Regions from separate parts of the Homo sapiens genome. Here region 2 is linked to region 1. Evidence: fine-mapped expression QTL. Tissue or cell type: tibial artery. Region 1 holds a variant in brackets; the other region holds the start of a gene. All regions are shown on one strand. Distances are between the middles of the regions.

Region 1 (2,686 bases):
AAGTATGTGTGCTGATGAAAACTCACGTGATGCATTGATACTAAAGGCCACATTCTACCCCCTTGAACATAGGGAATGCATATGGTAGTTCATCTTAACTAAATCTAAGGGCTCTTCGTAAAATACCTTAAACTTTCAAAAACCTAAAAAGCAGTTTGGGCAGCTCTAATGCACTTGTATTTCTGATGGCAGATGACTTTAATCCCTAGTTTTCCCCAACCATCAGTCACTCTTATATGTCCTTTCTCAGGACTTCCAGAAATCATTTTCTAAAAAGCCACGTGAACTACTATGATTATGCCACCAGACACTATTTAGATAAATCCTCAGAGTTTATTCAGGTAGTTTCAGTTGCTGTCTTGCCATTCTGTTTTCTGCCCCTGTATCATGTCAATTATTAGATTTTTAATAACATAGCAGAAAATGAGTTGCCTTCTGCTGCCCAAGGGTCTTTTTCCATGATTGTAGGAAATGAACATTGAAATGATAATCTCCTGAAGGCTCTGGCTTATGGGAAGAGAGTTATTTGTTATTATTTTGTGTAGCTTTGAAGTTGACACTAGTATGACTATGTTGCTTTTGAACCACATGAAAGAAAGTAATTTAATGTTCTAGGATGTAAATACCGCAGCTCACAAAGATTGATTGAAGTGAATGAGAAGTTCATGTGTTGATATTAATGTGCAGTGGAAGGGATGTCTGAGTTTTCTTTTTTTGAGAATTAAGTTAAATGCCTGTCATTCTCCTATAGTGTGTGTGTGTGTGTGTGTTTTACATCATGGACCCACAAAGAGGCCATAGCTCCCATTTAAACCTGCTGTCCTAGACAAAAATCCATGCACACTCATATACATATTTTAGGTATACAGACCAGAGAATGTGAAGGGAGTAATGTCCTCTGTGGGCTGGAAATGATTGCTTTACAACAGGAATTCTGTCTCAATGGAATTGCTTTACTTCAGGGAAAACAGAAATGGGCAAACTGCAGTGGTCTATGCAGGTATGGATGGACCATTCTCACACCTAACCAAGCAATGTTTGCTTTTCCTCCTCCTTTCTTCCCATCACTAGTTGCCATGTACCGAGAACCATCTTTGCATGATGTTGGGGAAACGGTCCCGAAGCCTGGGGTGACGCCAAGTAAAAGCACAAGTGC[G/A]TCTGCAATAATGAATGGAGGCAAACCAGTCAACAAGAGTAAGACAACATAGCCAGATCCTCACAGGTGTTGTGACTTATTCGTCCTGAGCACAGTTGAGTGATTTATCCTCACCAGACATTCCTGCTCCGTGGCTGAAGAGCAGCAGGAAGTAAGCTAATGCTTATTCTTTGCTGTCTCCGAACTTCTCTGTTGCAAGTGGATAAATCTCAACCTGTTGCACCCCCCACAACAAGAAGACACCTGGATAACCAGCTAAACTCAGACCATGGAATGCCCTACCAGATATGGAATGCCTTTTTAATATCTTTTCTGTGACTGTGACACTTCATGTGAATGACATACTTCACAAGTACACTCGATACCTTGCCTGCTGACAGCTACCCATAATCCTTTTTGAGTCCTGTTTCAGCGAAATCTATGTGTTTAAGTTCAATTTTGTAGCACACAAATAATATTGAGTAATTTCTAGTTAGACGCTGTAAACCTGTGCTATTACGGATTTCTCTTCTTCCCATTTTTACAGGGCTGCTCGCTCCACTGTCTGTGACCTTTTGCAGGGATTTTGTTCCTCTAAATCTTAAATGTTGCAGTTGGCTTAGGTCGGAGAGCAATCAGGGAATCAGGAAGCCTTCTAAACCTATTATTACAAATTGCATCTATAAAGAAAGATTAAGAAAGATTGTTGTCTCTGGCTCACACTATCGATTAAACACACATATACGCTCTGTCCAGTAGCAGATACTGTGCTCCCAAGGTCGGCATTGCCTGGGTGGGAAATGGCTCAAACACAATCCAGGGAAGCTCTCTATGATATGTGTTTGACATCCCCCTCTAGTTTCTTTGTGTGTGTGTGTTTTATACATATCACAAGCTTACTGGTAATGGTAACATTTGCCTTGCCCAGCGAGCAAGACCCACTGGTTTTTGAGAAAGTGGGTCCAAAGATTTCTGTAGGCCTTGTAGGCCTGATTAAGGTTCATTTTTCATCTATTAATTCTCATTATTTGGAAAAAAAAAAAAAGGAAAATCAGTAATTATAACCTACAAGAATTGCGCTACCTAAATCCATTTCAGATATACTCCGTCCTGTTTTTAATGAACCAAACTTAACGCCATCCCCGTTTCTGGCTGCGTTCCCCTCATACTCAGCAGAGCATGGGCAAGACGGCTGTTGTGTTCTTTCCTGCAGCAGCAATGCAAACGTTAGTTATAAATTAATTAGACTTTAATATTTTTGGTGTTTAATGACAAGTTTTTAAACTGGACATATTAGGAAAAATATTTTTTTTAGCTCAGCATGCTGAGTCCGGTACTGTGTATTTCACCAGTACATGCCTCTAGCTCAGCATCTGGGGCTCATGTTGCCCAGTGGCTGGGTTAGAGGTGCCTTGCCATGATCTCAGAATACAGTCTGTTGAATTATCCTAGATGAAAATAAAGGCAAACCAACACATTCATCCATGAGGATTTTGGTCCATTCCATTTATTTTCTTTTATTTTGCATTCTTAATTTCCTTTTTAGTTTAA
Region 2 (2,686 bases), 270 kb after region 1:
GACAGCCTGCAGGCGGCGCCCGGCCAGCTCCTGCGCGGGCGACAAGCAACCGGCAGGCCGGGTCAGACGCGGACGCCGCCCCCTGCTCCGAACCCACGTTTCCTCCCCAGTGTCCCCTCCAGGTGCAGACGTACAACCCCAAGAACAGGACGCCTGAGGCCCACATCTCTCTGGGGTCCAAGCGCTGCCTGGAAGGGCTGTATTTTCCCAAGCAAACAGGTATCACCCACCAGAGAAATGACCAGGGCCCAAAATGTGTAATGGGTGACCTGCCCCCGGACACAGGTCCTTCCTCCAGGTGGACAGAGGTGAACTGCCCTGCTCTTTGGTAGTTTATCACTAAATCTTATATGCACATTTAGATTAAATACAAAGTAATCCAAGGTACGGCACTCAGCTGACTTTTCAGTTCTCCTTTAAAAAACGTCCCACTGCTATCTGATGGCCAATGGGCACTTATATTACAGAAGAGAAAACGTGAATCTATAGAAAGAGTTAGACATGCTATGATAGCATCGGGCATAATTTGCATTAAGCAGTCTTTAGGAACTCTACTTTTAAAAAGTTTAGTTTCACTATTGCAGTGTGCCTCACTCAGTCTCTTTCAGGATGATACAAAATGTAACACAGACCTCCTGTTGCTGCCCTTGGGAAACAGATCATTCTGCTTTACATGTTGTGAGAAGATACTGGTACACATAGCATTTTAACTCACAGCAGGAATTCCTCCTGATATGTATTTGCAGAAAAGAAAATTATATTTTTATTCAATGATTGCATTTTTCCAAAGGAAAAGCAAAAGGACAGACATGAGGCAATACACGCTGTAGATATAAGGAGAGGAAAAGGAACAGGTTGAAAACAGTTTATCCCTTGTCCAATTTAATAACAGCTCTTGGCTTAGGGCAGCCATCCTGCAAGCTTGAGCCCTGCCACATAAGCAGGGCAGGTCTGTACTGAAGAATAACAAACCAAACTTACCTCAGAGATGGCGAGAAGCTTTGAGGAACAGCTGACAACCCAGCAAAGAGAAGGGAGGACGCCAGCAGCAAGAAGTTCCTGAAGCCTGGGGGACGCATGCTGAGCTCCTGGGCTGCTCCGGGCGAGCTGCACTTCTGCAAGGTGGGGTTCACCGAGGGAGGCGGCAGGAGGGAGAGGTGCCACCAGCAGATGGCTGGGCAGACGGACCCACGGACACCCAGGCTTGCAGGTCCGGGGCTCCAGCCGGAGTTGCAATTGCGTTGATGAGCTGCCTGCGAGGATTTGGGCAGCGGCACTGCTCTGGGCGGGGTGCTGGTGCCAAACCCCTCAGTGGAGAGTCTAGGCAGGGAAGTAATTAGAAACAGTTGTACAAGCAGATGGTTTATTTTGACATTAAAAAAAAAAAAAGTGTCCTGTTCACAGATTTCAAGTACGGGCCACAGAAATATTTGACAAGAGAATATTTGGACTGGCCGATATTAAAGAAACCTTTAAAATAATCCCTGAGTTGTGGAGAAGGGTGAGGCCAGTGACAGTAGTGGGAACACTTGGGTAGGGAATTACTTTCACCACACGCTTTTAAAGTAGATGCACTCTTTGGAGTTTGGGTTGGGGCCGGGGCAAGGAAATCTGACAAACACAACTTTTTCTTGCATTTATTATCCTTTGATTTAAACTGGATATTTCATTTCTTTAGTCTTTAAAAAGCGTGTCATGCTTCCAGCTGTTTAGGCCAGTAGCTTATCACACCACAATTTGTTGGTGACTTGGACAGTTTAAATTGTAGTTGTCTCAAATTCACCCCATTCTCCCCATATATCAAATGTGAGAAAAGAAAATTAAATGTTTATTTATAGCACAAATTGCACTGAAAAACAATTGGTGTCATTTACTAAGCACCTACTATGTGCCAGTCATTTAGTATGTTTTCTCTAATTATGACAATAATCACACATTTATTTATGCATTAGCAAATGGGGATTTAGCATCTATCAGGTGCCAGGTTTTGTGCAAGACAGAATGAATATAACAGAGAACTAAGGAGACATGATCCCTGCTCTCTCAGAGTCCAATGAGCTAGAAAGACATTAATCAACACAAAACCACAAAAAAAAAGAACAAAGGGTTGCAAGTGCAGTGAGAAGTTACTTCCAGATGAGATACAGGCACTTGATCTAATCAAAGATGGTAGCATCTGAACAAAAAACTGAAAAAAGTATTGAATTAAATTGGGTAGAAATAAGAAGGAGATGGAAGAGAACAGGGAGACATTCTTACTCCCATTTTAAAGATAAAGAAACTGAGGGCAAAGAGGTCAACTGACTTGCTCAAATTCACAGAGGAAGTTAGTCGTATTTCAGCTGAAATCCAAAGTGCATACACTATCCCCTACATTTATGGTCATCTGGGAAAATGTGTAGAGGGTTATATGGAAGGGGGAAAACATTTTTCATTCACCCTAAGAAGAGCACTGTACATGCAATCCTTCCTCATGAAATAGAACCATCCAAGAATCATCTGTGGTCCCAGATCCTTAAAATCAGGGATGAGCCATAATAGGATGGGATTTCTCCCTGTCCTTTATATATAAGTAGGTATAAGGGTAAGACCACCACAACACTAGCCTGCTGGAGCAAGAAGACGATGAAGGTCCTCTAATCATAGTACATTTCTGTTTCTACCCCAATCTCCACCCTGTAATAGG

The links. PIP is the estimated chance that this variant, and not a neighbour inherited with it, causes the effect.
Region 2: it holds the start of ITGBL1, and the variant in region 1 is fine-mapped to the expression of ITGBL1 in tibial artery (GTEx, PIP above 0.99).

The regions. Positions count from the first base shown.
Region 1 is chr13:101,721,353-101,724,038 of GRCh38, reverse strand. FGF14 (fibroblast growth factor 14) reads left to right here. Exons shown (of 5, transcript NM_004115.4): 5 at 1,072-2,686. The coding sequence ends at 1,208. Among named protein-coding and RNA genes, the nearest start is that of FGF14, 190 kb to the left of the region's middle. The variant G/A (reference allele first, on the strand shown) is at 1,157.
Region 2 is chr13:101,451,227-101,453,912 of GRCh38, reverse strand. ITGBL1 (integrin subunit beta like 1) reads right to left here and starts at 1,238. Exons shown (of 11, transcript NM_004791.3): 1 at 982-1,238; 2 at 1-30. The coding sequence starts at 1,079. RefSeq lists an enhancer at 1,156-1,660.